2 separate regions of the Homo sapiens genome follow, and region 1 is linked to region 2. A link means that fine-mapping ties the variant in region 2 to the expression of a gene that starts in the linked region. Tissue or cell type: breast. Region 2 holds a variant in brackets; the other region holds the start of a gene. All regions are shown on one strand. Distances are between the middles of the regions. Region 1 holds the start of LHX4 (LIM homeobox 4). Region 2 holds the start of LHX4-AS1 (LHX4 antisense RNA 1).

Region 1 (5,366 bases), 43 kb after region 2:
GGGAGCCTGCGGGGGCGGGAGGCCGGGACAGAGTGGCGAGGAAGAGGCCAAGTCTGGAGCAAGACCAGAGATGAGAGAGAAATTATTACATCATTTGGAAACGTTTTCCTAAAGGGTATGCCCCTCACCCATCCCCAAATAAGCAAAGGAATAGTCCAGCTGCCGCCGAAATAAGCTGGATTTAAATCACTTCTTCTAAAATGCCCCTAGAGGGGAGGGCACTAGAGGCACCGAGCTTGGGGACACCTAGACCTGCGTCCCCAAGTGCTCCATTCGTGGTGACTCCATGTGATGAAGAGGCAAACATGTCTGTGTTGAGAGGGAAACCCTTCTAGTTGGCGACTGGAGGGACCCCTGTGGGAGAGCGTTTCTTTTGTCTCCCCTCCTCTAGGGTTTAAGAGCCTACTGTCCCGGAAGGCCCAAGGGTGTGCCCCACAACCCCTCGAGCTTCCCCCCTTCTTAGGCCACTGGGCCCAGTCCCAAGAAAACTAATAGTTGTGTATATGTGGGTGATGGGGACCTATCCCGCGGTCCCAGCACCAACAGCCTAACAGCCAGAGGCCAGATGTGCTGCAAGGGAGGCTACAATCCATTCACATTCCAAGAGGAAATAAAAGCTGGATCCAGAAGTCTTCAGGGAGTGGGCCCCTCAATTTTGGCCGATGCCTCCTCCAACCAAGGTCACGAAACTCGGACAAAGGGAGGACTGACCACCCCCTCTAGATTAGACATTGCCTCCCTGGGCCACCCTGGGGGGGTGGGTGTGGAAGTTCCTTTGTACACCTCAAGTTTTCCACAGTGTGAACCTAGACTCAGCCTTGGCAAACTGTAGCTCTGAAGGTGAGTTCTGGGCATTTTAGCAAAGCGACTCCCTGACGTCGAACATCAAAGTTGTCTCTGAACAGGGAAGGCAAAAAGTGAGACAATCAGAGTGTCACTCATCACAAGAAAGGCCGTCAGAGCAGAGACCATCGTCCTTCATTGGGGTCCCAACAGACAGGTCACCTACGGACCACAGCCATGAAAGCACAGACGTACTGGGTACCAAGGACACTAGTAACACACACACACCCTTCCCCCACTCATGCAGTCTCCTCACTCGCGCAGAGCTACAAGCAGCTTAAGGACTCGGTGCACCTTTGCAGGGTTTCTGTTTCCGTCTTTGCAGGGGCTGAGAACCCACTCTGTCCCTGCCTGTGTGCGGGGTGTGGGGCGTAGTGAATCTCCAATGCCTTCTATGAAAACATCTTAGCGGTAAACTCCCCAAGGCTCAACACAGACGTGGAACTGATTGCCGGCAGTTGACACGAAAACACTCAAAGAATAACTGTAGAATACAGCCAAGAAACAATCTAAATAGGCTTGGATGAAGCTATTCTTTTCTAGTCCCTTCTCAAAAACTTCCCAGGGAAGCCTACGGTACGCCTGCCCTCCGAAGGATCGCCGGACAGAAACCCTGCCATGGAAACCCGAGGCGCAGGAGGGCGCGCTCGTGCGCCCTAGTTTGTAGGTAGTCACCATCCCTGGATGAGCCGGCCCTTACTTAAAGTAAACCCCGAAGATGTAGCTACCGCACCACTAAAGAAGTCGCAGGCGGAAGTACAACCCCTTGGCAAGCGGAGCGAGGAACTCCTTGGTCTCTCCAGGGTGCCCGGGGCGCCCTGCTGAGCGTGCAAGCCACAGGGGCAGGACTCTCCCGGCGCTTGTCGCGCGCGCGCGCGCGCGCGCGCGACGACTGGGCACCTGTTCTGGCCTCTGCACAGATTCCCTCTCGGGGACTCTCGCTCAGGAGTGAAGCACAGAGACGGATTCCCTTCGGGAAAATCTCTGCGCGCGCACACCCATACACACAGAGAGAGACTTGGGGATAAACACGCCGCGAGCTCCGGCTGTCTCGCTAATTTCGGGCGCGGGAAGAAAGCGGGCGGGCAGGCTAGCAAAGCTCCCACACACCCCCGTCTCTACCCCTCCAAACCCGAGCCACCCTGAGCACCTGCCCTCGCGTGCGCAAAGGCTGAACCCGGAATTCACAACTTGCGGTCGCTTCTCCCTCCCCTGCATTCCTAGGCTAGCTGGAATGCGCGAGCAGATTCCCTCACAAGGAGCAGTCAGTTTCCCGCGGCGCACGCGGCGGGCGCCGCGGGCAGTAGCGGCTGGGGACTCACCCGGCACGCACGCCCGGGGCGCGGGCCGCAGGGACTAAGAGTGTGGCCGGGGCTTCTCCGCCGCCAGCCCCAGGGGCGAGAGACGCGCTCTCCAACTTCCCGCCAGCTGGGGTGAAGTTGCACTAGCGGTCCTGCAAGCGCTGACCGTCACGCCGGCGAAAGAAGATTTGTGGGGACCACCCTCGCCCTCAGGCCTGGCCTACAGCTCGTACCCCTGGGTGTCCCCAAACAGCACTCTCCCCAGCGTTCCAAGAAAAGCCTTGGGCTGGAGATGCGGGGTTCGGTACTCGGCTCGCCTCAAGCATGATCCAGGAGGCGTTCACATTCGGCCCCAAACAGCCAAGAGCCTGGCCCCCTCAAACGCACTCTGGCTGGTGCCCCTGCCCTGTGACCGCCTCTGCGCCCCGGCCGCCAGCCCCTCCCGGCCCCTGAGCGGCGTCCGGCCCGCCCCGCAGCGGCTGAGGCTGCTAGCTGTCTTGTTAGAATTAAATCAGCGAGAAAGGGGGGTGTCTTACGTTGCATCGGCACACCTAGCATCTCCGGGAGCCCCTTGACAGCCCCTTCCGCGGGGACAGTCGCACTCTGCATCATCTCGGAGCGAAAGCCAGCGAGTCGCAGTCTACGGAGATCTCTCGCTCTCTCGCTCTAGCTCGATTCAGAAATTTCAAAATAATAATTAAAACCCCAAGCAGGCCGCTGGAGTCACGGTGGAAGCCGGGCCCTCCGCTTCTCAGGGAGGACTCCACAGGCTGGCCGGCCCCCTCCCCCCGCCAGTCCCCAGTCTGTTTCCAGTCCCTTTGATCTCGCTCTCCGGGGTTGGTGCACATCCCAGGTTGAGACGCTGTTGCTGCAGCTCTGGCTTTTTTCCTCTTCCCTCCCCCGCCCGCTCCTTCCCCCTCCCCCTCCACCCTTCGCGTGCCGGCCGCCCGGGAGGCCGCGGTCACCCGGGCGTTTTGATTCATTCACACTGCAGGAGCGGCCGTGACGTCGCTTTCCGCAGGGAGGCCCGCCCTTCGGCACATCCCCCAACCCGGCGGCGGGCAGCCGACCCCGGAGGGAGTGGGGGTCCCGGCGCCCCGAGTGAGGCCGGCGGGGCGGAGGGGGGCGGGGCGGCAGGGAGCGGGGCGGGGCCTCGCAAGCCGGCACCCCCCCCCCCTCCCCGCCTCCGCCTCCGCCTCCGCCCAGCCGTGGCGGGCTCGCGCCCTGGGTATAAATTCTGCTGATGGCCTGCCGCGGCAGCAGGTGGTCGGAGACGGCGGCGCCCTGGGTTTGCGGGTCTTCGTGGGTTCCAAGCCCGCGCGGCTCGTGTCCTCCTCACTCCTCCGTTCGGACCCAGGGGCGGGGCGGAGCCGAGCCGGGGCCGAGCGGGGCAGGCGGTCCGGAGGCCGGGGACGGGGCTGCGTCGCTGTGTCTTCGCCTTGCGCGCTCTCGGTCCCCGGCTTCGCTCCGCCGGACGGAGCGCGCTCCGTAACCGATGACTCCATCTATCTTCCTCCTCCTCTTTCCCCTGGCCAATTCCTTTCCTGCCGGCACTTCCCAGCCCCTGCTCTCTCTCCCCCGCGTCTGGCTGAGGCTGGGCCAAGGGACAGCCCGTACTCGGCCCGGAACGCGCGAGTCACGCGGCGGGCGGCGCCGGCCCGGGCTGGGGAAGGGGACCAGGGGCTGTGCGCGGAGGTGGCGGGACGCAGGCCCCCCGCGCGCGTCCCCGCAGACCGCGGCCTGCAGCCGGAGTCCGCACTTGCCTCCAGTTCCGCAGGGTAGGGGGCCCAAACCTCCCCGCGGCGGGGCCTCCCCGGCCGCCCTGCCACCAGTCGTCCAGCTCGGCCCTGTCTTAGGTCCCTAGAGCCCGCTCTGCCTCTCCGGCTGCCACCGCGGGTGCTTTGAACCATCCGCGACCTCGTGCGTGCAGGGCGGCAGTGAGCACACGGACGCCGGGGTTAACCAGCGAAAGGGCTTGCCATGCTTACTGTATTTACGAGATGCATGGACAGGTAGAGAAACGCTTAAAACAAATTCTCCTCAACGCGAGTTTCTGGCAGAAATACAACAGAAGGCCCAACGCTGGGACGAGGTCTCCTCTGACGCTCCATCAGGCGCTCGACGCCTCCGGGCTGCAGGCGCGGGAAGCCCACCCCGTCTGCCCCAAGACCCAGCCGCTCTCCTGCCCCCAGCCCCCACGGCATTTCCTTCCAGAAATGCAGACATACGTGTCCTTCCAGCCTAGTGGGGTTCAGCTTAGGCGGGAAGGGGGACTGTGTGCCCTCCCCAGCCTTCCAGAACCTTCCCTGCTGTTTCCCCTGGTGTCATCTCCAAACAAGGGACACCTGCTCACCTTTAAGGGAGGAGCATGGGGCGGGGGAGAATGGCCTGGTCGTCTGCGCTGCTTAGAATTTGTCTCCAATGAGGTCACAGTGACTTTTGTGTGTCCTGGTACTGGGTTGGCATCATCTCTTCCCTTGTTTACCTGCGAGGTGACTCCGCGCGCGAGACAATATACACAAGAAGAAAAAAGCAAAAGAACCCAGTGACATTTTTAGTGTTTACCAAAATGTGTTCTATAGAAATATAACTAGTAAGCAAACACGGGGAAACGCCAGCCTCATTTGCAGTGAAAAACACGCAAGACAAAACAACACGTGCACAGCTTTTTCTGTTTGTGAGATGCCCGACGCGCGGGAGGGGCATCCTAGAGTTCAGGACTGGCGAAAGGGGCTTGGACACTCACCAATACTGCTGGGTGCTTATAAACTCTTAACATCCGTTTGGAAAGAAATTTGGCAATATGTATCAAACTCATAAATTTTTCATACCCTTTAGTTTATGTAGTACTTTTGAATGTCTGTTCCACGGAAATAATCTAGAATTTTTTATAAAAGTTTCATGCGTGAAAATGTTTATTACAGTATTATGTTTTGGAGAAAAATAACCTAAATAGCCAACAAAAGAAAAGTGGCTTAGGGAAGTAGATTAAATTGTTTGGTAGTATGTTATGGAATCATGGAAACCAATTATGAAACCCAATAACATGGGGATGCTTGTGAAATACTATTTTTTTTAAAAGCACAATGCAATAGCATAGGATTATAAATATGTAAAAATCTTAGTCAAATGTAAGGGCAATGATAATACCCATTGTTGGTTAGGCTGTGGGGAAATTAGAAAACAATTTCCTAGTGGGGATTGCAAAGAGGGGAAATGTCT
Region 2 (5,366 bases):
AGCACCATTCAGGACAGCGTTTCCCACAGCAGTGCAGTCTGTCGCAGGAGTGGCAACTCGTAAAGCGGGGGTTGGCCTTGCTCTGGCCTCAGGCTTAGTGATTTGCTACTGCAAACCTGCACAACGGGGAGTCCCTGCACCACCACTGGCCAGAGAGTTCTGGCTTTCTGACCATGGGACTGCAGCCCAAGGCATGGCAGGTGTCCAGCCAGCAATCCAGAGAGATGCAGCCCAAGAACCACTTAGAACCCTTTGGACAATTTTAGGGCTGCTCCCTAAATTACTCTTCCCAACCAAGGTAGGCCAAAAAAAAATTGCTGGTTCCTGGAAATGACCAAAACTGTCCTCCAATTGAGTCAGCTAGGACAGCAGAGAAAGCTTTCAGAGGGGTAGACTTGCAAGCTCATCTAAACCAACTCCTTCAAAACAGACTCCAAATATTTCACCCTACAAGGGATGGGGAACTCTGGAAGACTGGCATCAGCCGATATGGCTGAACAGACTGCAGGTTTGGAATCCAAATGTGTCTACAAATGTTCACTGATTGATTGTCATTTTGTTCTCCCCACATTTTAGTTTTGCTCATTTTACAGCCCACAGCCTGTCTTGTGGAATAAATGATACAAGCAATTGAAGAAGGCACACTGTGCACCAAGGGGACGACTCAGGCAATCTGCAGCGGTGGTCCAGGGCTACTCAGCTCAGCCTCAGTCACCTGCAATGAAAACCACCTCTTGCCATCAGAGTCAATGATATAGATGGGACACTTAAAAACCAAAACAGGTTCATATTCTCTGGTTTGTAGGAAAGAATTCATATCTTCACAGCAAAAATAAAAAAGGAGGGGGCATGTTTTTAATATCAAACTGGCCATCAAAGTGTTCACTGACCTTTAATAACTGATCTTTTCATTTTGAAATATAGGGTTCAATAAGGATGGTCCAGAAATCACTTTTATTTTACTCAAGGGCTGTGAGGCCTCTACCTTAGGAGTCTCAGTTCTGGTGAGAGCAGTGTTTTGGGAGGCATTGTGTGAGACACACCAGTTGGAGCAAAGTTCCCAAAGGCCAAGGGGGCCTATCACAGTCACCTTGTGCTACCAAAGCACTGAGCAGCCAAGCCCCTAAGCAGAACAGCAGGGGAGAGACCCAACAAGCCAGTGTCCCTAGAGCTCTAGGCCATTACCCCCTGTGCTGTGTTCTGAGATGAGTCTGCTCTCCCACTGCTTCCCCAGGGAAACAATGCCCTAGTGTGGTCTCACAGCCTTCTAGGAATCAGCGGAGGACTTCCATTGAAAATAATGGAAATTCACATTGGCGTACTTTCGATCCTTAAAAGGCAAGTCTCTTTTGATCCTTGAAGATATTCTCTCAAGCCAGGGGGGCAGGTAGGGTGGGGAGGAGAGAAGTTTAAAAAGGAGGATGATCCATTTCATCGAGCCAAGAGCCTGGGCTAGTTGGAAAGTCGGGATAGCCTACACTGCTTCCTGTGGAGATGTCAGAGGTGGGTCCCCCAGCCATGGCTCTCAGCGTCTGGCTTACTCCCTGCCCTGCATGCGCAATGATGCCCAAATTACTGTCCACCGTGTAATCCAGCCCATTGAGCAAAGGAGCGTGGGATGGCAGGGACGATATGGAGGATGGAGACTGGGGGATTCCATAGGGGCTCCCATCCCTCAAGTCCTGATAGGATTGTCCTGTCCCGTCCATGGAGAAGCTCCCATTCATTAACTGTCCGCCTGTAACGTCCCCCACGTTGCCATAAATCCTATTGGTGTGGCCAAGTTCTGAGAGAATTTGATCCTCTGTGGACAAAAGAACGGAGATTTATTGTCAGCTGCCAGGACTCTGATGGTCCCCTGCTCTTCACAACCTAGGAACACACATGACCAGGAAAGATGCCCAAGGATGGCAGCTGCCTTGCAGCCAAGCATGGGTCAGACACACCAATATGGCAGCCTGATATCCAGAGGCCAACCCAGGCCAAGGAGAAAAACAAGAAACACCTGCAAAGACTAAATTCCCAGGTCCCAGAAGGATGGACAAATGTTTGGTGAGCTCGTTGGTCCCTTGTGGCTCGTGTACTAATACTCTGGCTACACTGAGGAGGATGAATGCCTAAGGCTGGGTGGGTCAGATGTCTCCACATCACAAATGGAAACTACATGCTGACAACATTTACCCTGAAAGCTTTCAAGCTGAGAAAGGGCTTGGTTTAGTTGATTGGGAAGCAAGCAGGCCCATATGGTCAGGGAAGCTGAGGACCACTCTTAGACATCTGTACAAAATCCTTCTGGTCTATCTGGAAGAGAGGTTCAATATCAAAGGACTTGGTTTCTGTCTGTATTCAATAAGCTCTTCACTGGGGACAAAGAATTGACTTGATTAAGGCAAATGAACCTTCTTTTTTCTTAAAGAATTTCATTAAGGGGATCTAATGGAATCTTTGCCACTTGAAAGAATTT[C/A]TCTCTCCAACAGAGGTGAGCAGTTTTAGTCTTTGAGAAATTATTCCCAGAGAAACCAATGATAGGTCAGCCCAGGGACCCACCTGCACCCAACAGAAATGAGCTTAACAATCCAGTATGTTCTAGGTGTTGACTTCAACAGCCCAGATGAGATTGACTTTCCCAATCCTGCCAAGAAGCCTAAAAGGTGAGTATTAGTCCCATGAGCTGTCCCCAAGGCCTCACGGGCCCTGTGTTCTCAGAGGAGGCTGCCCTCTAGGGCTCAGCTGACCTCTGGGCTGAACTAGAGTCCTCCCAGGGCATCGTTGTCCTGGCAGGCAACTTGTTCCATCCTCTGTCCCACAAACTTCCTTTTCTATTTCCACCTGGGCCTCTGCACCAATCCCTAAATAAGGCCTCCCCAGACTAGACTTCAACACCCCATCCCTTCTGAGGCCTGCCCCCCATTCCCCTTATGAAAAAACATGGTGGGGGGAGCTCATGCTCTTTAAAGGGAGCAGGAAGATGAAGGCTCCACTCCATTGTCAAATGGCCATGAGTTAGCCTTTTCCCTATACCTGTCATCCCAAATGACCAGGGCCCTCTGCGGGAGCCACACGCTCCCTGTGGGAACGATCATGCCTTCCAGGTATACAAATGTGCCAGGCTTTCCCCAAGCACATCCACAGTTGGTTGTGTTCATTGATCCCCACAACGCAGTGAGATGGGCAAAGATATGGTATTCCTCTTGGGAATACTGGGGCTCAAGAGAAGTGAATCGATTTGACAGAGCTGCACTGGAAACCAGGTCTCTGATCGCCAGTTGAGTACTCTTCCCTTTCCCCCTCCGCAGAAGACCTTCCACATTTGAGAACTCAGTACCTGAGAACAGTTATGATTCTTTGCAAACAACCTGAGGATTCATAACATGCAGTAATTTACAATTTTGCTGATGCATGAATTTGAATATAGTGCATGCTGCAAAGCTTGTGTGCAGGGGACAGAATGAAGTGAGTGGTGGGGAAAGGGATTTCGGAAGTGAAGCCAGTTCCCCATCTCACATGCACTCACAGTACTGATTTCCCAGGAAAAAACCTGTGGAGCATGACCTCCCCACCACCAGGACTGGAGGAAGGGGTGGCTCTAGGGGACTATGGGAGTAGGCCAGTGTCCCAGCAAAGGGGACAAAGATGGGAGAGGGGCTAGGGGCACAAGGCTGGAACCCAGTCATCTGTTCATAGCTGTGTGGGCTGATGAGGGAGGCCCCAGTCAGCAGGAGGGGAGGGGAGACCTTGGGGCCACAGGACGGGGCCTGGCCCATCCCAGCTTCCAGACCTCAGCAATCTTGTTTCCTACTCCTGTCCCATGGTAAAGGGCCACTACCATTTCCCCCACCCTTCACTGCAAGTCTTAAGGAAAAGCCTGTGTTCAGGAGGGAGTTGCCAAGGCCTCAAGAAAGATCCCTCCTGAGTGCCAGGGATTACAGATTCCCAGGGGACTTTCCTAAGGCCTCGGCCTGGCCCCTCCAGCCCTGCTCACCTCGGAAGCTCAGCTCACTGTCACTAACCCCACAGTCCTCTGCAGAGCTCTCCTTCTCCTGCTTGCTGCTGCCCCGGCTCCTCTTGACGCTCTTATAGAACTGCCCCCAGCGGTGCCGCCCTGCATCCTTCTTCAGGCGTTTCTCTTTGGCCCTTCTGTTCTGAAACCAAACCTGCCACACAAGCACAAGGGACATACTCAGGGGGCGTCCACCACAAACCCAAAGCCCCCAGGACCCCCTAGGCGGGCGGCTGGAAGCAGACTGAAGCCTGAATGGAGCACAGGTCTGGGAGTGCGATGCGCCCCACCCCCTCTCCCCAGGTGGGCCTCAGAACTCTGTCTTCAGTTCTGGCAAAAGCCCTGGGGTCAAGCCCTGAGCCCAACCACCCGTGAGCTGATGTCACTCAGGATACCTTCCACCCCTGTCCCGGGCCTGGGATCCCCGGAGGGCACAGGAGTGCTGGCATCTCACCTGTACGACCCTCATGTCCAGGCCTGTCTCTGAGGACAGCTGCTCCCTCACGTGCCGGGCAGGCTTGGGGGAGTTCTTGTATGCATTCTTTAATGTCTCCAGCTGCTTGGCTGTGATGGTGGTCCGGGGCCGCTTAGCTCCAGCCTCTGAGTCATCTGCAAGGAAAAACCACTGCTTACTGGCTTCGGCCTATCTGCAGCAGCTGCGCCTCCTCCCACACCCTCCCTTCCATCCTTTCTGCACCTAAGCCTGCCTGCTGTAGGCAGGACAGCGCGAGGCACAGGGGACATCAGAGTGGAGAGGTCCCCACTCTCATGGCACTGACTCCTGCACCACGGGCCTTCCCAAGCCACTGAAAAGTGAGGACAGCAGTCCTTTCTCTGCTCAGCTCCCTGCCTCAACCCTCCCCTGCCAGCCCAGCTGCACAGAAGTCTCATCAGATTGAATGTACCCAATTCCACACGTCCCTGTCATGACAAACACTCTGCTCACACATCCTCATGAGTTCTTGCCAGAGCTGTGAAGGTGAACAGCCAGGTTGAAGTCATGTTCAAAGTCGCCCCAGATGCCCTCCCCTCTGTCTCATCAGGAGTCTCCCATTTCCCCACAGCCATGTCACCTTTGCCCTGGCGTCGCTGGGCTCACAGCCAGGGGTGAGCTTGCACACCCAACAGTGTCTAAGCAGGTTTCTAAACTATAGGTCAGAACCCACTCGTGGGCTGTAAAGTCACCTTAGTGGATCAAAACTAAAACAGGAAATCAGATGAAGAGAATGGGATGGAATGGCAAGATCATTTCATTAAACTTTAGTTTTTATTGTATAAATATGTGTACTGAGATGAAATGTAAAATGAGTTTTACTGTGGATTGTAGTCAAAATTTTTTGAGAAAACTAGTCTAAGGAATGTTCTG

The links. PIP is the estimated chance that this variant, and not a neighbour inherited with it, causes the effect.
Region 1: it holds the start of LHX4, and the variant in region 2 is the best candidate, but not a certain one, in a credible set for the expression of LHX4 in breast (GTEx, PIP 0.76).

The regions. Positions count from the first base shown.
Region 1 is chr1:180,227,920-180,233,285 of GRCh38, reverse strand. LHX4 (LIM homeobox 4) reads right to left here and starts at 3,022. Exons shown (of 6, transcript NM_033343.4): 1 at 2,681-3,022. The coding sequence starts at 2,756. RefSeq lists a silencer at 3,452-3,581.
Region 2 is chr1:180,270,623-180,275,988 of GRCh38, reverse strand. LHX4 (LIM homeobox 4) reads right to left here. Exons shown (of 6, transcript NM_033343.4): 4 at 4,455-4,609; 5 at 3,983-4,154; 6 at 1-1,804. The coding sequence ends at 1,410. LHX4-AS1 (LHX4 antisense RNA 1) reads left to right here and starts at 1,308. Exons shown (of 5, transcript NR_037642.1): 1 at 1,308-1,338; 2 at 1,877-2,052; 3 at 2,591-2,651; 4 at 3,297-3,376; 5 at 4,018-5,366. It also overlaps a transcript of ACBD6 not described here. RefSeq lists an enhancer at 3,548-4,475. The variant C/A (reference allele first, on the strand shown) is at 2,465.